Linked DNA regions of Homo sapiens: regions 1 and 2 are each linked to region 3. The links come from fine-mapping of genetic effects on gene expression. A gene starts in region 3. Each other region holds a variant in brackets. All regions are shown on one strand. Distances are from middle to middle.

The links. PIP is the estimated chance that this variant, and not a neighbour inherited with it, causes the effect. A credible set is the group of variants that fine-mapping cannot tell apart.
Region 1: its variant is the best candidate, but not a certain one, in a credible set for the expression of FJX1 in fibroblasts (GTEx, PIP 0.74).
Region 2: its variant is the best candidate, but not a certain one, in a credible set for the expression of FJX1 in fibroblasts (GTEx, PIP 0.60).

What each region holds. Positions count from the first base shown.
Region 1 is chr11:35,584,788-35,594,922 of GRCh38, forward strand. No RefSeq gene overlaps it. Among named protein-coding and RNA genes, the nearest start is that of FJX1, 29 kb to the right of the region's middle. The variant T/A (reference allele first, on the strand shown) is at 4,686.
Region 2 is chr11:35,538,215-35,548,349 of GRCh38, forward strand. No RefSeq gene overlaps it. Among named protein-coding and RNA genes, the nearest start is that of PAMR1, 18 kb to the left of the region's middle. The variant G/C (reference allele first, on the strand shown) is at 5,363.
Region 3 is chr11:35,610,679-35,620,658 of GRCh38, forward strand. FJX1 (four-jointed box kinase 1) reads left to right here and starts at 7,782. Exons shown (of 1, transcript NM_014344.4): 1 at 7,782-9,980. The coding sequence starts at 7,959. The coding sequence ends at 9,272. RefSeq lists silencers at 7,370-7,459, 7,490-7,819, 7,641-7,802, 7,900-7,969, 7,990-8,249 and 1 more and enhancers at 8,102-8,736, 8,737-9,371.

The sequences.
Region 1 (10,135 bases), 26 kb before region 3:
ATCATCCTTCCCATTAAATTAAGGTTGTTAAATTGGCTTTGTAGTTTTGTTTGAATTTAACTTGTATTGAATTATATAATTTAACTTGTTTTTGGTTTTATATATATATCAGAGCCATAAGGATAAATTTGAAAGTAGCATTATAATTAAACAATTTAAGTAAACACTGGGAGGAAAAGTGGAAATTGCTTTTTTCTTTCAAAAGGCTCCATTTATTACTAAAGATTAAGGGGCAGAGTTAACATGAAGATTTTCAAACAGTGATTTCCCCCTAGACTATGATTCTAGTAGACCCTAAATATTTTTACCCTGGAAATACTTGTTTTAGATCTTGTCCACACTCACCACTCAACCTCAATGCCTACTCAGTTGCTGCCCTCTTTAGAAAAAGAAGAAACATGGAATTGTGTAATATTTGCAGCATTTCATGAACCAAAGAAATTTTGCCCAAGAGGATGGGTAGGTTACTCTCTGATTGCTAGTTGATTTCTGTTGCTTGAAAGGACAGGAAAGTGAAAAGTTCCTTCCTTTTCCTCTTGTCTTACCCATGACTGCAGTTTCTAGGGTAACTGCCTGAAAAGGGCAATAAACATTCCAGCCCCCTAACGCAAAGGTGTAGAAAGTGACAAATAGAGGGGTTCTGCAGCAGTGCGTACATCAGTCTATCTGGTGCTTGGAGATCCTTTGGGATGAGAGGTACTACATAACTTTAAGTTATAGAGACGCTTAATCAACCATTCTCCCACTGACCTGTGTTCTGTCCGTGATTTACTGGCACCTCTGTTTACCTACAGGATAATGGTCCTGGTGGGGAAGAGTATGAGGAAATAAATGACTAGGTGGGTGATTAATTGTCCTCGCACAACACAGGGTCTGGTACCAAGATCATTATTTCTATTGTATGACAAGAAAGAAAGAAGGAACAGTGAAGCAGTGTGCATAAATAATGGGAGAAAGATTTCTTCATTGCTCAGGAAAGCTTTGCTGTCCCATTCTTTTCAGACTTTCTGAAGTGGCCTGTCCCGTAGTGTGAATTCTCATCTCTCTCTTGAACCTTCAAAACTGGTCTTCACCAATCCATTTGACATGGGGCTAACAGATATTTGGGGGATAGTTTCCATCCTATTCACTACCAAATGCAAAGGGAGTATGGAACTGTTACTTTGCCCTTTCTGGAGCTTAACAATGCAAGCCACCTCCTGGGAGACAGCTCTGGGTTCCAAAAATAAGAGGCAGGAGAGAAGAATATATATTTGGTTTGAATGAAAACTATGAGTAAGGGCAGAGCAATATGGAGAAGAGTTCAGGACCCAAAGGCATCAGCTTTCAGCATTTTATTTTAATTAACTAAATCAAGCATTTAGCTCAGTTGTTCTCAATCCCAGTACATATTAGAAACACTTCACTTGGGAGCCTCCAAAAAAATACCAATGCCCAGGTCTCACCTCAGACCAATTAAATCAGAAAGAGGCCAATACCTTAAAATAACTGACCAAATGGAAATGAAATTCCTGGTCCTTGAAAGTAACTCTTTAGGAGACTTGGAGCATTGATTTCATCAGAGAATCCCTCGCCTGTCTATAGAGAGCAGCGGAGAAGAGCAAAGCACAAGCTGCTGTGGACTGTTCCAACTTCAACATTACTGCTTCCAATAGGAGGAAATAAATCACTAAAGAACTGTGCCTTATTTTAACTAGCCTGGGCTTTAATAGCCCATCAGCTTTGGTTTAAATGCTTTTCGATAGCACTGAGCATTTGACCTTAAGCAAAGCACTTGGATTCAACCTTGACATTTACCATAATTAGACAAAGAAGATTTTGCTCATTAAATATTATTTTTGTTTCTTGGACCATGAACTGAATTGTGAATGATCTCCAGTTTCAGGCAATGCAATGGCATGACCCTCAGTTCCTTGCAGCTGATAGCAGCTACAAGTCCCAATCTGCCCTCAACGGAAGGCAGGAGGCAAGGCTAGCATTTCCCACAGGTTCTCTTTGCTACTTGCAGCTACTGAGAAATGTCACAGAGGCTGGCATCCACCAAAGGGAGGATGGGTAGAGGGTCAGAGAGGTAGGCGGCCCCATGCCAGTTCTCATGGATATGAACTTTAATGCCATGGAATCCCCACCCACTGAGATAAAGGAGTGGATCATTTTTGGCAATGCCCACCCAGTTCAAGTAGAAACTCTTAACTCCCTCCTCATCACAGCAGTGAGCCTTTGGCAGTTATTTTGTAAAATATTGCCTCAATCTTCTGCCATGATTGATTGGCCCAGATGTTGCCAATTCACTCAAGTTAGATTGAACAAAGTTCTCCCAGGAACTGGAAATGGAATCAAGAAAAAGAGAATATGACTTCGGATAACCAGACCTGTACAATGGACATGTTCCAGCCACCATGCAAATTGAGAAGCAGAGAAATCAAGGCTCCAGGAAAAAAGAAGAATGGAAGAAGAGATCAGAGGCAAGAGACCCAGATTGAGTATGGCTTGTGTGTGCCCTGATCCCTGATCTTGGTGCTTCTCCAAGCCCCATTTTGTTCCTGTTGTTGGCTTCCAAAAAAACATTCCTGTGTCTTTATAATAAACTCCCCTGCAAGAAAAAGTGAGCTTTAACTGATTTGTTTGTTCTTTCATTAAGGCTTAAATTTTTTAGAGCAGTTTAAGGTTCAAAGCAAAATTGACAGGAAGATATAGAAATTCCTTCTGCCTCCACAAATGCACAGCCTCCCCCACTATCAACATCCCCCACTGGAGTTTTCCATTTGTTACCATTGATAAGCCTACATGAACTCATCCTTATCACCAGAGTTCATAGTTTACATTACAATTTACATTTGGTGGTATATGTTCTATGGGTTTGGACATAGGTACAATGCATAGTATCAGCTCTACTCGTTTCACTGCCCTAAAAATCCTCTGTACTCTGTCTTTTCACTCCTCCCTCCCCCTCAACCCCTGGCAGCCACTAATCTTTTTACTGTCTTCATAGTTTCCCCTTTCCCAGAACATGAATCACACAGTATGCAGTCTTTACAGGTGGGCTTCTGTCACTTAGTAATATGTATTTAAGGTTTCTCCATGTTGAACCGGTTTTTGTTACTTACAAACATGACCTAAGCAAAGCAGATGGGGAAACATCTCTTCCCTGTTCCCTTCCTCAACATTGTTTATCTTCCCTCCTTTCTTGATGTGGTGTCCGGGGACCAGGTCACCCACTTAAACCCAAAATCTAGGCTGGGCATGCTGGCTCACACCTGTAATGCCAGCACTTTGGGAGGCCAAAGCAGACAGATCACTTGAGCCCAGGAATTTGAGACCAGCCTAGTTATCATGGTGAAACCCCTGTCTCTGTGAAAAATACAGAAATTAGTCAGGCGTGGTGGTGCACGACTGTAGTCCCAGCTACTCAGGAGACTGAGGTGGGAGGATCACCTGAGCACAGGAGGTCAAGGCTGCAGTGAGCCATGATTGCACCATTGCACTTTAGCATGGGTGACAGAGCAAGACCCTGTCTCAAAAACAACAACAGCAACAACAAAAATCCAGATGTAATCTCTAACTCTCTGGAAACTCCACCCACTGAGATAAGATAGTGGATCCTTTTCGGCAACATCTTTCCAGTTCACAATGAGACCCACAACTCCCTTGTGATGGCTAATTTTACGTGTCTACTTATCTGGGCCACAGTGCCCAGATATTTGGTACATTATTCTGGATGTTTCTGCAAAGATGTTTTTTGGATGAGATAGATTTTGAGTAAAGCAGATTACCCTCCATAATGTGGGTGGGCCTTATCCAAACAATGGAAGGCCTTAATAGAACAAAGACTGGCCTCTTCTCCCCAAGCAGAAAGGAATTCTGCTAGCAGACTGTCTTTCAACTCAAACTGCATCTCTTCTCTGAGTCTGCAACCTGCCGGCCTCCTCACGTCTCCCATCTAATTTTGGACTCACCAAGTTTCCACAATCATGTGAGCCAATTCCTTAAAATCTCTCCCCCTCTCTCTGTCTCCATATATTTACATATATAGCACACATCCATCCTGTTGGTTTTGTTTTTCTGAAGAGCTGGAGAACTCTGACTAATACATTCCTCCTCGTCCACAACAGCGTGCCTCTGGTTATTATTGTCTCAATTCCCTCCTTATATTTATTTGTGATGTTTTAGCATTGATATTAACTGACAATATGGAGGGAGTGTGGTGAAATGGAATGAACACTGGACCCCATTCAACTAATTAGTAGGGGTAATTAGTTGGGCAAGTCACCAATCCTGAGCAAGCCACTTAACTTCTCTGAACCTCCTCCTAGACTATAGTATTCCTGAGGGTCCTCCTAGTTTCATAACATCTCAATGGGAGGTGAGCCACTCCCTGTTCTGTTGGCCTTCACCAAGGCTTGGGACACACAGCTTGAGGTGCCTGTCCCTTTCTTTTCCATATTTTTCCTTGGTTGGAAATCTTGTTTCTGCTCCTATAATCCTTTTGTCATTTTGGACCTGGGAAAGGGAAGGCAAAGGGTAAAGAACAAGGAAGAAGGAGGATATGAGGACAGTTCTTGCTGGAGAGAAGGGGAAGATAGAAGGTGCTTTCCGTGGAGGGAGGAGCTGAGAAGAGGGCTGAAGAGAGGATGGGCAAGTGTGACAGTGTCCTGAATTCCCTCCCACAACCAAATCAAAACCCC[T/A]GGCTGGGCTGGGTGTGCGCATGCGCTAGGAACTTAAGGAAACTTTGGAGAAACCTAGCAAGACCATGGCTGGTGCTCTGCTTCCCCAGGTACAGCCTGGGAGAGCCACAGCCTGTGGGAAAAGTCTGCATTTCCAAAGGGTGCCGTGTACATCAGGTTTGGGTACTAATGGGCAGCATGGGCAGAAGTGGGTGCCTGTATAGCCAGGGCCTGAGATAGCCTCATTCTAGCCCACCCTAGCTCTCTCTTGGCTTCAGCAGAGCACAAAGAAGATCTGGAAAGTTCTCAGGGACCAATAAAAGGGATGGCGAAAGTAAAGAAGAATTAAGAATTGAGAAGCCTGCCTGCAAGTGCTCACTGAGACACAAGATGGGGAAACCCTGTAGCAGAAGCCACAGGGAGGTCTGGCCAGGTCTGGGGGTCTCAAGGAGCTTGTGACCATGTCTCAAAGGACCAGTATCACCAGCAAAATCTCAGGTGGCTGGAGTCAGCAGCAGAAGATGGCTGAAGTTGTATTCCATGGGCTGAGAGAACATTCACCAGGTCCACCAGGCTTCACATTGAGGCAAGGAAGGCTATTAAGGCCAGAAGCTGGGGCCCAGAGAACAGCAGCCCAGAGGACCACACACAGGTGCAGAACTCCTCCTCTCTGCTGTGAGGATATTTAAGGCTCTGCTTCCCTCCACTTCAGGTGCCATCTTGAAAAAGAGTAGAAAGCAACTTCTTGAAAAGAGAGAAACAGACTTGGTAGGAACCACTTCAGAATATTTGCCCAAAGGGAACTATTTTGAACTGGAAGAGACTGGGTTCTCTTTTATTGGCATGTCTATTTTTATTTGTGTTTTTCCCCCTACTTCTATGGGGGCTTCAGAGCAGAAGACAATCCATTACTAAAACAAAAGAAGCTCCTTTCTGGTTTTGCACACCTGAACTCTAGTGTGTAAAGCTTAGCCATAACAGAGGATTGAGAAGGGGAAGACTTTCTTGCCTCCATGCCTTGGAAGGAGAGGTGCTCTTCTCCCACCCTGCTGGGAGAGAGAAAGTCAGGGATGGCTCCAAGGATGCCAGCTACTTCTAGGATGTGACTCACTGTCCCTAAGGATACATCACTGTGATAACAAGCCAGAAATATGAGCATTGAGTTGCAGAAAGATGGCTTGAGTCCCTCCCTCCTCCTGATGCTATAGCAGGTTGCAGAAAGAACTGGGAGAGGCACCAGGGATCCTAGCTTATGGATGAAAGAGCTAAGCCAGGGAGTGGCCTCTCCCTGGTTGCTAAACCAACTGAGGGGCTCAACAGGGAGAGTGTGCCCTTGTCCCTGCTTTTGTCAGTTTCCTTACCTGTTACACTGAGACACTTTAGGAGTTGTTAGAGCTGAGGTTTTCAGAAGAGGTCCCAGGCTTGCCAAGTCGACAAGAGGAAAGATTGGAGGGTAGCCCATGGGAACCAATACTGCCTCTGCCATAGGTATGACACAGCTCAAAATCAGCTTGGAGAGCTCTCTGTGTCCAAGTGTGGTCCGGTTCTGCCTATTCTGTTGTCATCTTATATTACTCTTTTATCCCCTTAGACCTGTCACACTAGTCCATGGCTTTTCCAACCAGACCTATTATTTCTTGAGAATTATCTGAAAGTGAAAAGTTAGTTCTAATACTATCTCTTATAATGTACTTGCTAAAAATGCATCCCTAAAAACATGGAGCTTTCTACAATCTATCTATCTATCTATCTATCTATCTATCTATCTATCTATCTATCTATCTCTACCACCCTAGCTACTTCTGTTCTTACTAGCTACTGCTCAGACCCATGCAAGGACTTGAATCACAATTCCCCCCACGAATTCTGCAAATTTCATTTCTGTATGGTCATCACTCTTGTGTGCCTACAATGTGCAAGGCACAGTAGTAGACATTTGAAATATATCTTATTTAATCCTTACAATAGTCATGAGATGAGGGCAATCAGCCCCATTTTACAGAAGAAATGAAAACAGGAAAGGTTAGAAAGTGAGTAATTTGCAAAGGCAGGAGTCAAAAACATGGGTCTATCTTTAACCAAAGCCCATGCTCCTTCCATTATAATGCACTGCTTCCTTATTGCCTGCTCTTACCCCAAAGCTGCGTGTGGCCACACACCAATGCCTTCTCTCCATGCTGCTGCTGTTGCTTCTGCAGCTGCAAAATGAGAGCTCCCATGTAACCCTCTGATTTTTCACTGTCATTTTTGCGGAAAAATAACAACTTCTGGATTAAGTTCAGAACTGAACTGGACTTCACTAACTGGACTGAACTGAAAAAATCTCACTCTTCTTCAGAGACCCTTCATTTCTTGTTTCCATTATCAATTGCATCCACAACAATAGTGAAAACACGTCTGTTTATGTGTATGTGCAATATATATTCCTTTAGGTTGTCGACAAAAAGAAGACATAGAGAGAATTGAAATGTCTAAATGATTATATGACAGTTTATATTATGCCCCATTGCTGTCTCAGGAGAACTGTCCAAATATCAGTTACAGGGAGAAAATGACTTCACCAGAATGTAAATGCAAAACCAGCCAATGCTTTCCAGAATTTTGTCAACATATTTTAAACATCCTAATTATTGGACATATTACAGTTAGTCCATAAGGATGGCAAAGACCATTTTCCTTGTGCATCCTATTTCATCATTTATATTGGTAGAATGTGTACCTTCACTTTTAGAATAACGTCCCAGTTTTGTCCTTCCTGAACTTTTCCCTTCTTGTCACTGGTTATTTCTCTGTATCCTTCAGGTGGTTTTTGCTAAGTTCTTGAGGTATTACTTAATCGTGCCTTTCTGTCTTCCACGTTCTGAAGCAATTGAGAAGTATACAAAGGAATCAGAGGTCCTAATAATAGTGGTAATACTGGCTACCTGGTCTGGTGAATGGAAACTGTCCCTGTGATCTGAATGAGTTTTCTATTCCATACTGAGTTATACTTAGCCACCTTTTCATGGCCACAGCAGCTAAACAACTGGAAGCCTTTCCTCTTGAGGGCAGAGCTTGCCTTGGCAGACTCACCACATGAAAGAGGCAGGAACAGAAGGAAGAACCTATACCAGCTTCAGGCCATCTAACCTAAGAAAGGGAGCCACAGAGAGTATAACACTTAAAAAACCATTGCTGGCCAGGCACGGTGGCTCACGCCTGTAATCCCAGCACTTTGGGAGGCCAAGGCAGGTGGATCATGAGGTCAGGAGTTTGAGACCAGCCTGACCAACATGGTGAAACCCCATTTCTACTAAAAATACAAAAATTAGCTGGGCATGGTGATGCATGCCTGTAATCCCAGCTACTCAGGAGCCTGAGGCAGGAAAATCGCTTGAACCGGGGGGACAGAGGTTGCAGTGAGCCAAGATCGCACCACTGCACTCCCGCCAGGGTGACAGAGCAAGACTCCATCTCAAAACAACAACAGCACCAACAGCAAAAAAAAAAAAAAATATATATATATATGTAATATATATATATAAATATTTATATTTATATATTTAGATAAAAAATATTTATATTTTATATATATATATATATATATATATATATATATATATATATATATAGCTACAAATGCCTCCCATCCCTGTATATATGCCCCCGGCAATGTGGGGTTGCTACTGTTCCCATCACTTGCCTTGGCCAATGGAAAGAAGCAGAATGATGTTAAGCAATTTCTGAGCCAAGGTCTAAGTCAAGCAACCTCTGCATTCTTTCTCAAAATTCACCTACCAAGTGAAGAAGCCCAGGCTAGCTAAACCAGTGGAATGGCCATGTGGATAAAAACCAAAGTGCCCCAGCTGACACTTCAGCCAACTGCTAGGCCTGTAAATTACATCATCCAGGATCAGGCAACACCAATCAACATGCCAAGTGACCACAAATATGTGAGTGAACCCAACAAACACCACAGAGAATGGAAATGAACAATCTCAGCTGAACCCTGCCCAAATCACCAGGCCACACCAGTCAGATAAGTCCCTCTGGTATAAGGCTAGACAAGCAATGTAGCTTTAATATTGTTTTCTACAGAATATGAGGCATGGGGTAATATCCCCACTCAAGAGTTACGAATTCTACTGCTGTCGTGTATGCCAATGCCTTCCATAGGCACTAGAAAGGCACTTTAACCATTGACCATTATTCAAGGATCCATTGAAAAGTAGAGTATATGTTTCCTATTGCTGCCATAACAGATTGCCACAAACTTGGCGGCTTAAAATGAAACAAATTGATTATGTTATATTTCTAGAGGTCAGAAGTCTGAAATGGGTTCACTGGGCTAACATCAAGGTGTCAGCAAGGACACCTTGCTTCCTTCTGGAGGCTCTGGGGGTAAATCCTTTCTCTTGTGATTTCCAGCTGCCAGAGGCTCCATATATCCCTTGACTTATGACACTCTTCCATCTTCAAAGCCAGCAATGGCCAGCTGAGTCTTTCTCAGCCACTCTGACTTTTCTACCTTCCTTTTCCACATTTAAGGACCCTTGTGATTACATTGATCCCATCTGGATAATCCAGGATGCTCTCTCTATTTTAAAGTCAGCCGATTAACAACCTTAATTTCGTCTCCAACCTGCATTTCCCTTTGCCATATAACATAACATATTCACAGGTTCCAGGGATTAGGTCAGGGCATCAGCAATAGGAAACATATACTCTACTTTTCAATGGATCCTTAAATAATGGTCAATGGTTAAAGTGCCTTTCTAGTGCCTATGGAAGGCATTAGCATACACGATAGCAGCAGAATTCATAACTTTGGGGTGTGAGGGCATTATCTTATCTACCACAAATAGTGATCTCAGAAAGAGTAGCATCATACTACTCAGGAAAAATTAACGCTCAGTTCTTTTTTTTTTTTTTAGACAGGGTCTCTCGTTCTGTCACCCAGGCTGAGTGCAGTGGTGCGATCACAGCTCACTGCAACCTCAACCTCCAGGACTCATGGGATCCTCCCACCTCAGCTTCCCAAGTAGCTGGCACTCCAGGCATGCGCCACTATGCCTAGCTAGTTTTTTATTTTTTGTAGAGACAGAATTTCACTATGTTGCCCAGGCTGGTCTTGAACTCCTGGACGCAAGCAATCCTCTTGCCTCAGCCGCCCAAGGTGCTGGGATTACAAGCATAAGCTGCTGCAGCCAGTTACACCCAGTTCTTTACTTCCACCTCGCCTAACAGTTTCTAAGTGCTCTAAAAGTAGGGATAATAAGAAGTCATATTTCATGGTATGTTTTGGAGTTGATAATATAAGACAGACATGGAACCTTGTTGAAAACAAAATACATTTTATCTCTTGCTTCACTCTAATAGCCCTGTGAAGGCCAAGTTGACAGACTGTCCAGCTTCCCTCTCAATCATGTTGCCTGGAGACTGTCACCAATGCAGGCCTCATTGAGAGAGAAGCAATGTGTCTCAATCTGTCA
Region 2 (10,135 bases), 72 kb before region 3:
TCTGACCTGTGGGTAGCAACTGGTCACCTATCACAGCCATTCCCACACTTCACTGCTCTTTCTCCCATAGGATCCTAGGGAACATCAACGCCCCCATGAGATCTCAGTCTCCTGTATCCCAGCATCCCTTGGAAGTGTCTCTCAGGTGCTCACAAACCAACAAGTCACCATTAGACACAATGCATCCAGTTGCAACCATTGGATTTTTCTCTTCTCCCACCTCACTCACCTATGTTGCCTGCATCTGAAGGCCCCCAGGAGTTGGCAATGCTTGCCTCCCAGCGGCCGTGGATGCCAGTCCTTCACAAGAATGCCAATGTCCACGGCAAGGGTGCTACCTACCACTGCTCCCACAGCTGCTCTAAGTGCCAGCAGGCCGCTCTGGTCCATTCAGAAGTGAGGAGATTGTCCCTCTCCCCTCAGCATCACATGGGGTCACCCAGACCTTCAAAAGGGCCTCCTTGTGCCCTCAAGAGTCACAGAGACTCTTGTGTAAACAGTTTCTCATTCTTTCCTTTAGGAGCCTCCTTTCCACTGGACTCAAATGCATGGCTGACTTCAAGGGCTCCTCCCCATCCCCTGGTTCCTCCGTGTTAAGGGTGGGAGAGCTGTCCTGCAAATCACCTCCTGATCTCCGCTAACCCCCCGTCACTGCTTCTGCAGACATGAATTCCATTTTAGGCTAAAGTTGAGACATCCCCACTGTCCCAAGCGATTCTCAGTATGCCAAACCCCAAGGCCAGGTAAAAAGAAAGAATTATCTTCTCCAATTCTTCCTCCCAATGTATTCTAGAAGCAGACCTGGGTCTCCAAAGAATGCCTGTGACAAAGAGTATTGCTGGTGATTTTTAAAATTCTGTACTGGCTGACAAAGAATAATCAAATTGATGAGGGAATAAAATAATATACAGTTAAAAAAATGCTTTCTAGTGGCCAATGTAGGGGGCCTGGAGGCAAAAATATAGGCTCAATGCTTAGTCTGGAAAATCTACCACTCTATTTTTAGAACCAAAGAAAAGAGGCTTGTATAAGGACAAGGCACAATAACAGCTATTTTTCTCCCTCTAGGAATGAGGATTAAAAAGTGGTTATTAAGAGTCTGGATCCAGGATTCTGAGTGAAGAAACCTGGAATCTAAGCATGACTCTATGATCCGTGCTCCCTGCCTGTAACCCAGAGAGCGCAAGTCAGACCACATACTCCTGTAAGGGAGACATCCATTCAATAATTGATGACTCAATTTCAACCAAGACAATGCATATGACCAGAAGCCCAGACCTAGGCTAAGGGAGCAGGGAAGGCTTCCTGGAGGAAGTGTTGCCAGAGCTGAATGTTAAAGGATGAAGAAGAATTGATGGGATATTAATAGATGGAGTGATACATTAGTGTTCCAGGCATGGGGGAAGCAACACTTGCAAAGGCAGGCTGGGCAGGAACGTGGTGTGTGTGGCAACTGAAAAAAGGCCAGTGTAAACCAAAGCCCAGAGATCAAAAGGAGTATTTTATGAGTGGAGGCTGATAAGTTAAGCAGTTCTCTGTTAAGGACTTTGTCTTTAACTTAAAGGGGGGTGGTCGCCAGCCTGCAAGACGGTGTCTCATAATTTTGGCCTCCTGGTTGTCACGAACCTTGCATGATCCCCTCCCACAGTGTACCAGGGTTGGTATGTGTGACCCATCACAGATGGGAGTAGTGACCGCACATCCCTCCCGAGATTAGTTTATGAAAGACACTGCTGCCTCCATCTGCACTCCCTCCTGGATCACGTGCCTTGCGGGAAGTCATGTCCTGAGCAGCCCTGAGGACAGGCTCCCAGGCAAGGAATGAAAGCTTCCTGACAACAACCATCTGAGTAAGCTGCTGGAGAGAAAAAGCTGTTTTCCCTCTACCCATCTTAGATTCATTGGTTGGCTGGGCTCTGCAAATTAGACTGATAAAAGTCAGATAAACAAGAGAAAAACAAGCAGAATTGCATTAACATGTGCATGACACATACACATGGGAACACCCAGTGAGTAACACAAAGGGGTGGCTAGAACTTGGGCTTATATTGCATCTTAACAAAAGAACCATACAGTTTTAGAGAAGTGATAAGACAAAGGAAAAGGACTTTGAGCTTCTAGGGGTGGCAAATTATGGAAAGGCAAATACATGTGGGGGCTAATGGAAGAGAAGGACTCATTGGTAAGGTTTTTAATGAAGATTTCTCTGGTGCCCTCTCTGGGCTTATAAGGGTCTACTGTTGTCTCTAGTGACTAACTTCTGTCCTTCCTGGTAGGGAGAAGAGAGAGGGCACCTTTACAAACTTACATCGTGTTTCTGGCAAGTAGAGGGAGGGCAGATAACTCTTCTTGTATCTATCTGCTTTTCCTCCTTTGCCTTCAGCTCAAAATAATTCTTAAGCCAAAATGGCATATTTTGGGGTGGCATTTTCTGCTATCCTTCAGAGTCATCTTGGAAATGATGAAATCCAGCCCCAGTCAAGTCTTCAGAAACCACAGCCCCAGCTGGCATCTTGACCGCAACCTGATGAGAGAACCATAAACCCAAGCTGCCCCCAGATCCCTGACCCTCAGAAACCACGTGAGATAATACATGTTAGTTGTTTTAAGATGCCATATCTTAGGGTAATTTGTTATGCAGCAATAGGTAACTAATACGTAAGAGCAGCAACAGAATTAAACTTGCTAACTGTGACTTTGAACAAGTCACTTCACCTCTCTGGGCATCAGTTTCTCTCTTCACCTATAAACAGAGAGGAATAGGCTTGGGTAATAGAATGTTAGCCCAGGAAAGATTTTAGATATAATCTAAGAAGGCCACAAGTCCCTGAGGGCAGAAGAGTGGGCATGGATGGGGACCCAGAATGACCCAAGCTGCAAGGCAGCCGGGAGTGTAATAATAACAAAAGCCTAATATTTATTGGTCACTTACCCTGTGCTAGGCACAGTGCATGCATTATCTCATGTAATTCTCCCATCTAGCCTGAGTTAGGCACTGGATTGCCCCAATTTTACAGAAAGGAATGCGAGGCACAGAAACACTAAGTCAATGACAATCCCATCCTTCCATGCTTCTGAAAGTTGCAAATAAGTTGTTTGGGTCTAGAAGTAACTGCTACTAAATGCAAAGCAGAAATCACTTGCTCTTTTGCCATCCCCTTGGTTCCTCCCCAACACCACCCTCATCAGCATCCTCTAGAAAATCATCCCGACCAGATAATTATTAAAGTGGCCCCATTCTACCTCCTGGGTACAAATTCCAAATTTTCAACCCCACTCGGCCTGGGAGTTTGGAGGTGGGGGCCATAAATGGCAGTGGGATGTGGTGTTGATGGTAAAAGCCAAGCAGCAGCCACACAAGTGCCTTCCAATCATTCATTTCCTGACAAAACACTACAAAGATGGCCATTGAAAATTTCTCCAGACTCATTGGAATTTGGGGTCTTTGTTCCCATGTCTGGAAACACATCAACCTGCCAATTCTGGTAACAGAGTCTACGATGATGCTCTTGGCTTTCATTGTTTTTGGCAAAAGCACTGCTAAGTGCTGCTTTATTTTTTAGTTTTTGTCTCACTTTTCAGAGAAGATAAATCAACTGTAAAAGTGTGTTATGAAAACCAACTTGGCAAGCAAGATCTCCTGGAGAGGAGCAGGGGTAGCTTTATTTTCCATTATCTCAGTGTAAAACAAATAGATTTATCCTTCTTAGATGTTCTTGTAAGGTCATCAGGAGCACGTGATTTAAACCATGGCCCTTGGCCGACTCCAGTACAGAGCATGATCTAATCAGGCCTGGAATTCTCAAAGAAGAAAGGAAGAGAAAAAAATTGGCCTCATTATGAGGATTTCAAAGTTATCTCAGTACAAGGAAGTTTTTCCTCTCTGCCGAAACCTCCTGAGAATCCTCCAAAGGAAGCCTAATTCTTGACATGTTTTTAAGGTTCTCTGTTCCATTCACAGAGTGAGGTTAAATCTGGGCAGACCAGGCCCTTGTCTTCATTCTTCTCCCAACAGGCTCAGACCTTTCTCAGCTTGGTGGCTTTGGTTGGAATGTTAGGATTGAGCAACAGTCACAAAGTATTTAACCTATCTGAGCCCATGTTTCCTCATCTGTATGGCTGCCATCAGAACCCATACTGAGACTTAATTATTTTTGTGAAAATTAAACTAGGTAATTGATATAAAGTGATGAGCACATCGCCAGGCACGTCCCAACGAGTCATTTAACAGAGAAGCTATGGTGTGATCAAGGGTATAAGGATCACAGCTGGACATTCTGCATTTGTATCCTGGCTCCATCACTTACCAGCTACAGGCAAATTACTTGATCTCTCTAAGCCACAGTTTTCTCATCTGCAAAAGGGGGTGGTAATGGTATGTATCTGCTACTTCACAGGATTGTTAGATGGATGATATGAGATAATGCTTAGACTATGCCCAGAACATAATAGATAGTAAGTATGTGGTAGTTATTACTACTGTGACTTCAAAAAGGATGACAACAACCACCACAGCTACTATGACCAATGTGACCTCTCAAGTATTATTTTGGGCCCTTTGATTACTAAGCAAAGCAAATCATCTCTGTGTAACTTAAAAGAAAAGAAAATACATTAGATGACTCTGAGACAACTGAAAGAATCAACAGCTAAATTGAATGGCCAAGGTTTGGAAAGAACCAGGAAGCAGAAGAGCCCCAGATATGTCAGCCACAGGAACTAATGATGGACTCTTTAGGGTGCCACTGTCAGGACCCATCAGCTCCACCAGGTTGCCATCTTTGAGCCACTGGCCAAAGGAAGGTGTACACTCTGACATCCCAACCAAGACCAGTTCCAATGGGGAGGGATAATTATATAAAGGAAAGCCTAGTTGTTACTGAAAGCAGAGGCCAAAATACTGGGGAATCAGAAACAACTGATACCAGCCATAATTATGAACGCGCCTACCACTATTCCTACTAATATTAATATTTATTATAATATAATAGTTGCAGTAGTGCTCCTAGACCAAACCAAGGGTCAGGCTGCTTATTTTCACAGCCCAATAACAAAAATGCAGATGAACTGAGAGAAGGGAGTTTATGTCTATAACTGGGTACAGGGAGAAGGCCTGGAAAATATCGCCAGACCAACTCAAAATTACAAAGTTTTCCAGAGCTTATATACCTTCTAAGCTATACGTCTACATGTAAGTGTGCATTCATCGAAAGACGTAAGTGATTAAATTCTTCTAATCTATAACTAAGATCTGAATCCTGAACACCTTCCTCTGGAGCCTTAGTAAATTTACTTAATCCAAATACGTCCAGGTGCTGGGGTAATTACCCTTATCTTGTCCCCTGCGAAATCATGGAGGTTT[G/C]GGGAGTTCCTTTAGACCCCTAATAAGCTTCTTTGTGGAGGCCTGGGGAGTTTCTTCAGACCCCCAGTAAGACATGTTTAATCCTAAACGGCTCCTGTTAAGAGTTCCTTCGTTATCTTGTCATGCTTCAAAGCCCAGGAAAAGCCTAGGCAAAACTCCTGGTGGGCTTTTGTTACATTCCAGCCTTTGTATAGGGGCACTAGGTCTTTTGGCTTTTAATATTTAACTTAACCACTCAGTGCTGAAATAGTTGTTATGGAGGCCTGCCTGTTCAGCCTTTAGGGAGACCTGGCTTACCACAGTAGTTGCTGCTAATATTACCACAGTATTCCCCCCTTATCCTTGGGGAATATGTTCCAAGACCTCCAGTGGATGCCTGAAACTGCAAGTATTGAAGCCTATATATCTATACGTGTGTATATATATATATATATACACACACACACACATATATACATAGATATATATGTACACACACACTATATATACTGTTTTTTCCTATACATTCAAATCTATGATAAAGCTTAATTTATAAATTAGGCACAGTAAGAAATTAATAACAATAATAATAAAGTAGAATAATTATAATAATATAATGTAATAAAAGTTATGTGGGTGTAGTATCTCTATCTCTCTCTCTTTCTGTCACTCTCTCAAAATATCTTATTGTACTATACCAGGTAACTGAAACTGCAGAAAGAGAAGCCATGGTGATATGGTTTGACTGTGTCCCCACCCAAATCTCATCTTGAATTGTAGCTCCCATAATTCCCACGTGTTCTGGGAGGGTCCTGGTGGGAGAAAATTGAATCATGGAGGTGGTTTCCCCCATACTGTTCTCATGGTAGCGAGTAAGTCTCATGAGATCTGATGATTTTATAAGGGGTTTCCCCTTATGCGTGGTTTTCATTCTCTCTTGCCACCTCCATGTAAGACGTGCCTTTCGCCTTCTACCATGATTGTGAGGCCTCCCCAGCCACGTGGAACCATGAGTTCATTAAACCTCTTTTTCTTTATAAATTACCCAGTCTCGGGTATGTCTTTATCCACAGCGTGAGTGTGAAAACAGATTAATACACATGGATAAGGGGGAGCTACCATATTAATTCAAGAAAGGGCAAAAACAACAATGTCAACGAATATCCAACCCTGAACTTCATGAACACTGTCATTTCTAGATAATCAGACTAGCCAACAGGCTGGCACCATTTTTTTTTTTTTTTTTTTTTTTTTGAGACAGAGTCTTACTCTGTCGCCCAGGCTGGAGTACAGTGGCACAACCTCGGCTCACTGCAACCTCCGCCTCCTGGGTTCAAGCGATTCTTCTGCCTCAACCTCCTGAGTAGCTGGGACTACAGGCATGCACCACCACGTCCAGCTAATTTTTTGTGTTTTTAGTAGAGACACGGTTTCACCATGTTGGCCAGGCTGTTCTCGAACTCCTGACCTTGTGATCTGCCAGCCTCCGCCTCCCAAAGTGCTGCAATTGCAAGAGTGAGACACCGCGCCCAGCCCAGGCTGGAACCATTTTTATTTCTCTTTTGGAAAACCCACAGTTTTCCAAAATGCTTTTATCTTTTGGGAAAAGTATAGTTTTCCTGTGATAAAATGAAGACCATCGTTTCTTGTCTGCTTCCTAAATGTCTGACGCCATGCTAAACACTTGATATATTTTATCTCACTCACTGTATTGTGAGGTTGGCTCAGGAGAAAGAATTAACCATTGTTAAATAAAATGTAACGGAAACAATAAAAGCTTATGTTGAAGTCACAATAATTTTTATAATTGCTAATAATTAATACCAAGCTATGATCATTTTTAATTTAGCAATAAAACTTCTTTATATAGTGAGTCGGTCATTCAATTCACCAGGACACACAATTAAATCCATGCAGCTACTTGCCCTGGATCACGCTACGCAGAGTCAGTTGCCTGCGTGAGGAGCAGTTCAATCAAAAATCGATGCCTGCAATTTGGAAAACCCGTCCTTGTGATATATTAGTGGTGAAACAGGAGAAACAGATGCTCATTAGGCATGTAATGTTTGCTGAATTATTAAGTGATTCAATGCAAAGGACTTCTAGATACTGTTACAACGTTTAAAAATTCTTTAGGATTATTGTACGGCCTCTTTTTAAGACAGCATCAACTCTCAGAAATTGAATTGCTGTTAGATTCTTTAGCTTAATCCTTTCAAGGCTTGTATTTGAAACCATTGTTTGTTTTCTGTCTTAATGGAGAGCAGATCTTTATGGGAAGGCAATGTAATATCCTCTGAGCTGGAAATCCATTGCTGTGAAAGTCTGGGCTTCTCTCAACAGCCATCACTTGGCCCTCTGAGCCTCTCTCTGGAAGTCAATTTCCGCTGCCCCAGAGCACCACAGCCTGTCTCTTTAGTATCAAATCTTTTGAGAGAGATGCATTGTTCTTTTCATTATGAAGGATATGTGTTGAGCTATTAATATTAATATTAATATTTTTCCTAGCATGGTGATGCATTTGCACTGACCTTTCCATCCTCCATTGACATTTCTGCTGTGTCCAGCAAGACACACTTGTGCTATCAGGAGTAAGGGGCAGAGTTCTTTGCAGAGCTAATCGTGACTGGAAGGACTCATTCATCGGCCCACCATGCTAGACATCCTAGCCCTCCTGGTCACACCCAAAGGAAGCTACAGGAGAAACGGGAGGTGACTCTGAGAGTACTCATAGGAAAAGACCACACAGGTCACCAGGAGAAATGTAACTATCTAGGGATCAATGGAACATGCTTCAGCAAGGGAGCTATGGAAAGTCCTATTTCATAATGGCATTGAAAGTACTTAAATTAAAGACAAAATTTCCAGAGCAGAGGAATTCTCTCCATCCTCCCTGGGGCTGCTCACTCGGTACTGAAGTGCTTCTCTTGGCCCCAGATCCTGTCTGTAAACCTTAGGGCACAGAAAGAGGAAATGAGAGTGGAGTCCCTGGAGACAAACTTATTCTATTTAATCATTTTGTAAGAGTTTTAATCCTGCGCCTTTTCCCATCATTTAGTGCATGTCCTCCCACAGACATATGATAGAAATCTGATCATTTAATTCACACTAAAGTAGCTGGGGGTAAAAACAGAACTAGAAGGACAGAACAATGCCTAACGTGAAGGCAAAATAATAAGAAAAATAACCAATCAGTGCTCATAGTTGGGCATTATGTACCAAGCAATGCAAATGCATAACTTGATTGGCCTATTAACCATCTTAAGAGGCAGTAACTAACCATCTTAAGAAGTAGTAAGTAACTTCTGCATTTTACAGAGGGAGAAATAGTTGAAGCTCAAAGAAGCTATGAAGCTCAAACCCAGCAAAAAAAAAAAAAACTGCCAGAGCTGAGACTCCTGCCTGGATGCCCCCACCTAGTGTCAGCGTATCTCTGAATCATGTTAATAGAGCTATGGTTCTCCATCCTGGCTACACATTAGAACCACCTGGGCTGCTTTTTAAACTACAGAGGCCTGGAATCTTCCCATGACAATTAAGTCAGAATTTTGCGGAGTGGGAAGCTGACATTTTTTTTTAAAGACCCCGAAGTTGATTCTATGTGCAGCAGGGATTGAGAACCACTGAGACAGGGCACTGTACTGACGGAGGGGATCAGAATTAGTTCCTCTTTCTTTCCTCATGTCTACAATAAGACTATCCAACAACCAGACCTTCTTCACTCTTCCTCTGCCCCATCTGAGGCCTGAGTGAAGCTGCTGTCTCTGCCCTGCTGAGCTAAGGAAAATGTCAGGCCAGAACTAGAAAGAAGACCCAGCTCCCAGCCAAGAAACCAACAAATTTATCTCCACATCTGTCGTGGGAAGTCAAGGGAAGATCAGAAAGGGGGCAGAAGGAAAATGAAAGGGCACCAGATGAAATATGCAGTGGTCAGTCCAGAGGCTACTGGGGTGCTGGAAGCAAAGATTAACCTGTTGGGGGAAAGGACTGATTCTGGAAAGGGCAAGGGAGGGGGAAGCTCTGGAGCCGAGCAGTGGTCTGGGGGCCAAGAGAGCTGGGTTCTCACCTACCACAGTGGTCTGAGAGATTTCAGACGTAGATGACCTCAACCCAGCTACTCCAGGGTGAAAGGCGAGAGGTGTCTTTCCCAATGGGCACAGCTAGATTGATTTTTGGGGTGTTGCTGTTGTTGTTGTTGTTGTTGTTGTTTTTCCTTGGAATTGCAGTCCAGGCTTGACTGTCCATGCTAATGGAACGAGGCCATGTTGTACAGTAATGGGATTTTTCAGGTTTTTTTAAATTTTAATTTAATTTTATTTCAAGTGCCAGGACACATATGCAGGCTGTGCAGGTTTGTTACACAGATAAACATGTGCCATGGTGGTTTGCTGCACCTATCAACCCATCATCTAAGTATTAAGCACCACAGCATTAGCTACTTATCCTGATGCTCTCCCTCCCGCTGCTCCCCTCGACAGGCCCCAGTGTGTGTTGTTCCCCTCCCTGTGTGCATGTGTTCTCATGCTTCAGCTCCCACTTATAAGTGGGAACATGTGGTGTTTGGTTTTCTGTTTCTGTATAAGTTTGCTGAGGATGATGGCTTCCAGCTCCATCCATGTTCCTGCAAAGAACATGACCTCGTTCCTTTTTATGGCTGCATAGTATTCCATGGTGAATATGTACCACATTTTCTTTATCCAGTCTATCACTCATGGGCATTTGGGTTGATTCCATGTCTCTGCTATTGTGAATAGTGCTGCAGTGAACATACGCATGCATGTGTCTTTACAATAG
Region 3 (9,980 bases):
TAATGATTATGATGGAGATCCCATGAGCAGCCGATATTTCACTTGCAACCATCTCGATCCGGGCTTTGCTGGCTGCAGTACTTTCTTTTTTTCACAGCTACTTCCATTAACACCCACCGCCTATGATAGAACCATTATGATAATATCTCTGCTTTCGGCAGCCTCAATTGGTCTTGACACATTATCACCCTAAGAGCTTAGCCACGTCGCACTAAGTCCTATTTATAATAACCCTTGGCAGGAGCTACCAAAATAAAACCTGGTACTTATGAACTACCTTTCATCTGAGGAAATCAGAAAGCTTTACAAGCTTAATTAAGCTTCAGCATCTATCTGACTGATGAGATATGTGGGGCCTTGGAAAGCTGAGGAGGCACAGAATCACTAATTGTGCACTGGATAAATCTCTGGGTGGCAACGAAGAATAGAAATCAACAAAGAAGAACGAGAGTCACCTCTTTTAGTGGGAGTGTTTGTTGAGTGAATTTTTTCAGGGTGGGTTGAGACCAACAATCATAGGTTATTGATGAAGGGGCCATGGAGGGTCTCTAATGAGGTGGCTCTCAATCTAGGGCGGGGGCCTGAGATTTACTTCTTTTGCCAAAAGAGGATTAAGCTAATTCAACACACTCAAGGGCTTTCAAGGACAAAGAAATTGAGCTCCTGAAAGATGTGGTAATCTGCCTGTGGGCACACAGCTGTTGAGCTCACACACTGTTCCCTCTACTTGGCTGAATCTCCCACCCCACCTGTAAATCTCCACTTCCCCTTCAAGACTCATCTTAACACCTGCCTCCTCGGTGAAGCCTTCCTGGACTTCCCTGGCAGAATCAGTCACTCCCTATTCTATGCTCCTGCGTGTGCTTTCTATTTCCATAATATCTACAGCAATTGATATTTATTGAGTCCTTTCTAAGTGCTTAAGGTACATTTTATCCATACAATAATGAGGCAGGTACAGTTACCATCTCCATTCTACAGATGAGTTAAGTGGTCCGGAGAGGCTAAGTGATTTTCCCAAGATGGTACAGCTCATAGGTGCAAGACTCAGCCTGGCTGCAGAGCACATGTTCCAAAACATTAAACCACACTACTTTCCCAGTAGCCCAGTTGTGATGGAAGAGATCTGTTTGTTTATAAGTCAGCCTCCTTCCTTAGTTTGTAAGCTCTGATGTGAAAGGGTATGTCATTCAGGAGAATTTGGGCTGCAAACAACAGAAACCCCAACTCAGAGTAGCTTAAACCACAGGAAATCTAGAGGAAGGGCATTTCCAGAGTTGATTAACTTGGGGGCTTGGTGACATCAGCAAGGATCCAGGTTCCTTCCATCTCTCTACTCTGCCTTCCTGATTGTGTGAACGTAGTTCCCCTTGCATTAACATGACTTCCTCAGTTCCAGGCCTCCCATCCAGCCTGAACCATGCAGAAAAGGTGCCATATCTTTCTTGTGTCTCTGTAAGAGTACAGACAACTTTTCCAGAAACCTTCCACTGGGCTTCCCCCGTAACATTCACTAGCCAGAATGGTCTCACATGCCTAAGCCTTAACCAGTCACTGCAAGGAATTGAAAGCACCATGACTGGTTCAGCCCAAACAGGATTCAGCATCCCTTAAAGGTTAAAGGCACAGAGGATGAAGGTAGAGACCTGCCAAAAAGGAGGAAGGGAAGGCGGAGGATGAAAAGAAGACAACAAACGTTCCCTGATGCAGGTGTGAAGGAAGATCTGATGCCCAATCACTTATTCCTCAGTCCTTTGGCCTTTACCATGTGGGCAACAAATGTCTGTGGAACTAAATTATAGTAGAGAAATTCATGTCTCCAAATGCCCAGTCCAGAATTCTTACCATCATACTCTGTAACCAGGACTGAAATATGTGTTGGCGACTGCTCTAAAATTTACTAAATTGATTCACCGGTGCTCCAACCTTTAGATTCGAGTCTTTAACACTAGTGTCTGCAGGAACCTTTGCAAAGCAGGTCCAAAAGAGAGCTAGGTGGAATAAAGAGAATCGTAAAAATGTGTCTCATCACAATTTACAAGGTTCTTGTCAACCATGACTTTCTTTCCAGAAACACAATGTGTTCTTAAAAGTGGGACTTGTTCAAGCAGATAGGTTCATTGCATTCAAAGACTACTCTATTTCCTGACCTCCTTCTAGCTCTCCAGTAGGATTTATCTGGAACCAGGCATCAATATACCCACCCTTGACAGCCAAGAATGTGAGAATGAGATCAGTTAAGCAATTTTTGGAAGACCCAGATCATAGTCAAATAGAGATACCAAGAAAAGGAAACTGATCCTCAAGCAGAAACATAATGTACCCTAGGGTAGAAAAGACGGGAAGGAGGGAATGGCTTAGTTCAGGCTTACTATAACAGAGCGCCATTGGCTGGGGTAGTTTAAACAACAAACATTTGAGCGGGCGCAGGGGATCACACCTGTAATCCCAGCACTCTGAGAGGCCAAGGCGGGGGGATCATTTGAGGCCAGGAGTTTGAGACCTGCCTGGCCAACATGGAGAAACCCCATCTCTACCAAAAATAAAACTAAAAATAAAAAAAATTAGCCGGACGTAATTGTGGTGGCACACACCTGTAATCCCAGCTACTCGAGAGGCTGAGGCAAGAAAATTGGCTGAGGCAAGAAAATCAGTGTAGGTTGCAGTGAGCCGAGATTGTGCCACTGTACTCCAGCCTGGGTGATAGAGCAAGACTCTGCCTCAAAAAAAAATATATAGATAGATACATAGATAGATAGATGATAGATAGATAGATAGATAGATAGATAGATAGATAGATAGAGATATCTATCTATCTATCTACATATAGAGAGAGAGAGACAGAGAGAGAGAGGTTGGGAGGTCCAGGATCAAGGTGCCAGAAGACTGGGTGTCTAGTGGGGCTACTCTTCCTTGCTCATAGGCAGCGGTATTCTTTCTGGGTCCTCACATGATGAAAACAGAGCTGGAGAGCTTACTGGGGTCTCTTTTATAAGGACACTAATCTCATTTATGAGGGCTCTACCCTCATGATTTGATCACCTCCCAAAGGCCCTACCTCCTAATGCCACCATATTGGGAGTTATGATCTCAACATATTAATTTATGGTGCAAGGAGGAACACAAACATTCAGTCCGTAACAGAGATACATACATAATAAAATTATAGCCCAGGGGGTTAGAAAACTCCCCAGGGTCAAAGAGTAGTGGCCAATGTAGGAGTCATACCACTTCCATGGAATATTATACTCATCTCTGACATCTTTTGTCCCCTCTCTTCCTTTTTGTAGAAGCACGTGGAAGGGTACATTTGGACGCCTCTGTCTTTTCCAGGGGCTTATAACTCAGGAGATCCAGAAAAGGTCAGGATTGAAGGAGGCAGACTAGTGAGAGGAAGCCAGAAGCTGTCTGCCCGAGGCTGGCTGGAGGCTCTGGGCATTTAACAAGAGTTACACTGGGAACCTTGGTAGAAGCCAGGTGGTCCAGCTCCATGGGGAAGAAATATTGCAAAATTATCAGGAAAGACACCATTTCAGGCATAAAGCAGGTGCATTGAGCTGGAACACCACTTGTATTAGGTCTCTCAAGACCAAGTGAGACTTGGTGGAGGACAGCAACAAGAGAAGGAAGACATCCCCATCTGAGCACTGAAACAGTGAAATAGAAAGGAAATAGAAAGGAAAAAGAACAACAACAGCTATACTATAGTGAACACTTAGATGCTCTTTTAAGCACTTTAAATATAAGCACTAATTTAATCATCACAATAATCTATAAGATTTGTTCCTATTACTAGTAATCATGAGATATTGTATATTGTTATAATTTTTGTTAGTAATACTAGTAATACTGTTCTTATTGCATTTTACAGATATATACACTGAGGCACAAAGGGGTTAAGTAACTTACCCGAAGTCACATGCCTGGTAAGTGGCAGGACTGGGTTTTAATGAGACAATCTGGCTTGACAGTTCACACTCTTAACCATTTCACTTGGGAACAAACCCCAGAGAACACATGAAACCAAAATTTCATCTCAGTTGAATCTATTTTGATTTAATGTAATAATTTCTGCACCTGACATTTCCCTAGCAGTTTATAATTTACAAAAGGTTTGGTCCCCATCATTTTGGAATCGCAGCCCTGCCACTTCCTTGCTGCATGACCTCATTCCACTGATTGGCTAAGCTTCCACTTCCCCATCTGTAAAGTGGGTATAATAATACTTTTGGGGGGGTTTCATGAGATAAAGCACATGCAGGGTTTAGCTCCACACCGAGCCCATAATAAGAGTTCAATAAGTGTTTGCTGCCACTGATGCTGTGGTTATTATTAATATTTCACTTGAGCTGCATGACAACCCTGTGAGTTAGGAAGGATTTATTAACTTATTTCTCAGGTTCTGAAACTGAAACTCACAGAAAGTAAATAACTAGAACAAGGAACAAGCCAGAAAGTGCTAATGCCAGACTTGGAAAATATTCCAATTCCAAGCCTCCTCCCCTGCTTCCAACCCTCAACTCCACCTCCTCTCTTTCCCCCAGGAGGCACCATTACATGAACCAGATCATTCTTCAAACAGGACTGTGGAAAAGTTTGAAGATATTGGAAGTTCAGGCTCAGGGATAAATTCTAAGGAGTATTAAGAAAGTCATAAAAGTGCAAATGGATTTCTCATCCCCAAGCAACTGCCAGAGGGCAGAAGTGACTGAGGTGATTAACTATGCTACCCCACAGAGCCAAAGTGGTTTGGCCACAGGTGGCAGGGGAGTGTCCTCAGTCCAGAAAATAAAGGAGAATGGGAGTATTTTCATCTAACAGCTAAACAGAGGCATGTTTTTAAACCCTGTCTCAAATAATCAAATACCATTCCAAAACTGCATTCCACTTTGAGGAAGGGGCAGTGTTTGTTCCTTTGGTTTTCTGTATTTCTGCATTTCAATTAATTTGTTAAAGTTTAACAAATTAATGCATCCTGTTCTGGTACATGATGCATTCAGTCCTATGGCTATAGGCAAAGGGCTGCTCAATGATAAAATTAGTCCATCTTATGAGGTGTACGATCTTAGTCAATTTATTTAAGTCTGGGTTTTTTTCATCAGTACCAGCAATATGGTTAGGAGATTCCAGGATTTCTAGTCTCTGGATTTGAAGCCAGCCCTCCCAGAATTAAAATCATGTGCTTCCCCTCACATCTATCATGCAAAACCCTCACCAATATTTTTTCTTTTTCAAATGAGTGGAAGTTCTTATTTTGTATTCTTTAATCAGCTGAACAATAACTCACAACCGTTGGACAAAATTGTTTTGCATTATTTAGTAGTAAGGTATTTAATTTAAAAAAACTTGATACATGCTACTTGCATCTCATTAGCATTCTAACGATGTATTCAGCAAATTGTTGTTGAACACACACTAAGTGCCAGGCATTGTGCCCAGGCAGCCATAAAACAATGGACAAGACAGACTCCCCAGGAAGTTTACAATGGTAGTTACTTACAGCTTTTGTTAGCAGCCAAAAAGACAGAGACCCCAACTACTTTGGATTTCTCCATATCCCCTAGGACATAGCTTGGTACACAGTAGACATTTAATAGTCTTCCGAATTTAACTTCAACAATTAATCATCCAGTTAAAAATGTCTACTTTTCTCCAATTAGATGATACTCTACTTATGCCCACTAGGTGGCGATCTTGCTTATAGTTTGCCCACGCTGAAAGAGGCTGCCTTTCAAATAAATACATATATATCCCAGTAGAAGTTAAACCAAAAGACAAAAAAATTAAATTTATTGAGTGCTTATTTAGTGTAATATACTATGTTAGGTGGTATAAGAAATAAAAAAATAAGACATAGTCCCTGCCTGCTAGGGAAAGATGAGGAGGGGCTTACATAGGCCAAAAAAATAAGACCTTTGAATGGATTAATATATTTCGATGCAACCATATGGGAGCCATAGTAATCTCATTATCAGATAAGAGTTATAAAATGGCATGGTATAGCCACCATGTGGTTGGGAACAGATTCAACAGTTCATCCAGTATGTACTTAACCACACCAGTGAAAACACTTGACTGTATCCTGGGTCAGTGCTGCAATACTCCAAATGTGGTTTTTTGATGCCTCTGCTCAGCCATAAACATAAGAGTGTCTGCTTTATCACCCTGGAACGCTCTATCACCCTAGAACGTTTTTTCTTTGGAGAATAAAACATAATCAGTGCCAACTGATGAGGTAGTCCAGTTGAAAACCCCCATGTGCACCTGATGGGAAGATGAAAGGAGAGAAAAGATACACACCATGTAAGGAAACAGATTTCAAACTCTGGCCTTTGAGAGGTGGATTCCACCATGCCCCTGATCTTGTGTCTACCCTGGGAATCTCAGTGTGGATCTGGGACTCATTCTGATACAGAGAGGTAAGGGAGGGCCGACTGGCATCCAAGTTTTCCTGGTAAATGTAACCCAGAGGTGGCTGGAAGATGTGTTGGGGTGAAGAGGTTGTTCATTTTGTTTTCTTTGCTCCTTCACCACCTCCCTCCCCCACCACCACCACCATTTCTTTTTCCCTTAAATCGTAAAAGCAGTAAATCAAATGCAGTATGGGATTGAGGTTTTTTTCCTTTCCATTTGAAAAATCCTTTTAATTGAAAAATCACATTTGGGGAACAAAGTGGTCAAATGACAGTGAATTTCAAACTTGAGAATGCTGACTTGATTAAAAAAAAAATACTGATCTTTCTTAATGGAGGGAAAATCAAGTGCATGCGGCCAGGAGACCTGAGTTTGACTTTTAGCTTCGCCCCTTGCTAATTGTGCAATCCTGAGCAACACCCATCCCTTCTCTGTGCCTCAGTTTCCTCATGGACAAAACGGTATCATTTCTTTCGAAAAGTCGTCCCTGACTCCCCTCTCCCCAACACGAGGTTGGATGGCTATAATCTCTCTTAGCAACCTGAGAGTCCCACTGGAATGTAAATTTCAGCAGCACTGGGACCCGGATCTGTGGATTTTGCTTCTGGTAAGCAGAACCAGAACTGAGGGGCAGTCGCTGTGTTGAATGGATGCATGAATGAATGGGAGATGGCCTAGGTGTTCAAGGGGCACGTGCACAGCGAGGCTTCATTCCCTGGGAGTCCGTTGGGAAAGGCAGAGCGGCCAATACTGATTGGTGCTGATGTGCGAGCTCGGAAAAGGGAGTGTCGGTTCAAAGTTGTTGGCTACAGCGGGTTCCTCTTTCCGCTGGAATCACATCCTCTGTGGCTCGGAGACATTCCCAGAGATTTACATAAAGCAGCGTGAATCACCCAGACAGAAACTGAGAAAGCAAAGGGACCCTGCCTGATCCTAGCCTGGCGGAGCTCGGAAAGAGGTGGAAATCTGTCTGAAGTTTGCAGGAGACCCGCGCTGCCTAGGCAAAGGGACCCGGCGACCAAGACACCCCCGCGAGGGCCCAGGGCGCGTCCCTCCCGCCAGGCCCCAGACTCCGGCTCTGCGCCACCCCCTCCTACGCCCCGGCGCGGGCGCAGCCAGTCCGGCTTCCTCCAGGCCCCCAAGTCCCGGACCGAGTGTGGGGCCGCCTCTCCCTCTCGGAAGGAGCCATCGCCGCTTTAAGTGGAAGAGGAGAGGAAGGGGGCGGGGGAGCGGGGGGCGGGGAGCGGAGGCGGAGGAGGGGGAGGGGGATCCCCCTGGCTCCCACGTGGTCCGGGCGCCTGTGAATCGCGCCCACCGGAGGGTCTCACAGCGAAATACAAAAGCAGCTGGGAAGCGGCGGGGACTCGAGTTCCCAGCGCCGGGCGGAGCGCCGGACAGAGCCCCGCAGCGCCCCGCGGCCGCGATGGGGCCGAAGCGCCCGAAGCCCCGGAGCCCACAAACTGCCGGGCCCGCCTCGCCGCCGGGACCCGGGTGCCTGGGCTCGGCTTGAAGCGGCGGCGGCGCACCGGCACAGCCGCGGGAGCATGGGCAGGAGGATGCGGGGCGCCGCCGCCACCGCGGGGCTCTGGCTGCTGGCGCTGGGCTCGCTGCTGGCGCTGTGGGGAGGGCTCCTGCCGCCGCGGACCGAGCTGCCCGCCTCCCGGCCGCCCGAAGACCGACTCCCACGGCGCCCGGCCCGGAGCGGCGGCCCCGCGCCCGCGCCTCGCTTCCCTCTGCCCCCGCCCCTGGCGTGGGACGCCCGCGGCGGCTCCCTGAAAACTTTCCGGGCGCTGCTCACCCTGGCGGCCGGCGCGGACGGCCCGCCCCGGCAGTCCCGGAGCGAGCCCAGGTGGCACGTGTCAGCCAGGCAGCCCCGGCCGGAGGAGAGCGCCGCGGTGCACGGGGGCGTCTTCTGGAGCCGCGGCCTGGAGGAGCAGGTGCCCCCGGGCTTTTCGGAGGCCCAGGCGGCGGCGTGGCTGGAGGCGGCTCGCGGCGCCCGGATGGTGGCCCTGGAGCGCGGGGGTTGCGGGCGCAGCTCCAACCGACTGGCCCGTTTTGCCGACGGCACCCGCGCCTGCGTGCGCTACGGCATCAACCCGGAGCAGATTCAGGGCGAGGCCCTGTCTTACTATCTGGCGCGCCTGCTGGGCCTCCAGCGCCACGTGCCGCCGCTGGCACTGGCTCGGGTGGAGGCTCGGGGCGCGCAGTGGGCGCAGGTGCAGGAGGAGCTGCGCGCTGCGCACTGGACCGAGGGCAGCGTGGTGAGCCTGACACGCTGGCTGCCCAACCTCACGGACGTGGTGGTGCCCGCGCCCTGGCGCTCGGAGGACGGCCGTCTGCGCCCCCTCCGGGATGCCGGGGGTGAGCTGGCCAACCTCAGCCAGGCGGAGCTGGTGGACCTAGTACAATGGACCGACTTAATCCTTTTCGACTACCTGACGGCCAACTTCGACCGGCTCGTAAGCAACCTCTTCAGCCTGCAGTGGGACCCGCGCGTCATGCAGCGTGCCACCAGCAACCTGCACCGCGGTCCGGGCGGGGCGCTGGTCTTTCTGGACAATGAGGCGGGCTTGGTGCACGGCTACCGGGTAGCAGGCATGTGGGACAAGTATAACGAGCCGCTGTTGCAGTCAGTGTGCGTGTTCCGCGAGCGGACCGCGCGGCGCGTCCTGGAGCTGCACCGCGGACAGGACGCCGCGGCCCGGCTGCTGCGCCTCTACCGGCGCCACGAGCCTCGCTTCCCCGAGCTGGCCGCCCTTGCAGACCCCCACGCTCAGCTGCTACAGCGCCGCCTCGACTTCCTCGCCAAGCACATTTTGCACTGTAAGGCCAAGTACGGCCGCCGGTCTGGGACTTAGTGTCACCGGGAGGAAAAGAGAGAGATCTGGGGCTGGGGTATGGATGATGGGGGGAAGGGCGGTCGCCTCTGCCACTGTCAGGGACCAGCCGGCCAACGCCCACCCGCAAAGGTGTCTAAAAACTTCAGCTTTTCACCCACCTGCCCCTTTCTTTCAATCCCACGCTGTTTCCTTTCAAAGTTCTGGGAGGACGAACTCACCGAGGCGAGAAGTGTAACATTCTCTCCACCCAGCTTATAAAAGGATTCTTTACTGTGCCAGCACGGGGATTGGATCCGAAGAAACTGGCTACTGGGGTTTGGCCCCCGAGTGGCCGTCCCTGTGGGAGATGCACCCCATTCTTGGGCCCCCCCTCATTCCCTTTCCGAAAAAGGAAAACTTGCGTTTGAGCCGTTGAGCTAATTCTGCAATTTTCTACCAAACAGAGCGCTGGTGGCCCCGGAGCAGGGCTGTGACATTGGCTGGTGGAGCCCCCTTCCTGTGTTCTCCCTTTGTTCCAGCGCCGCGATGGTGAGATCACTGTTCCAAGCAGGGGGACGGCTCGCGATAGGACAAAGAGAGCAGGACCTCCAGACTCTGGGGAGCCCTGCAGACCTTGACAATTTGCCTGACTCATTCCTGACCTCTTGTCATTTTGGCCTGAAGGCTACAAATTCAGGGTCAGCTGTATGCACTAAGTCAAATAATGAATTTCTTCCTCCCTCTCGC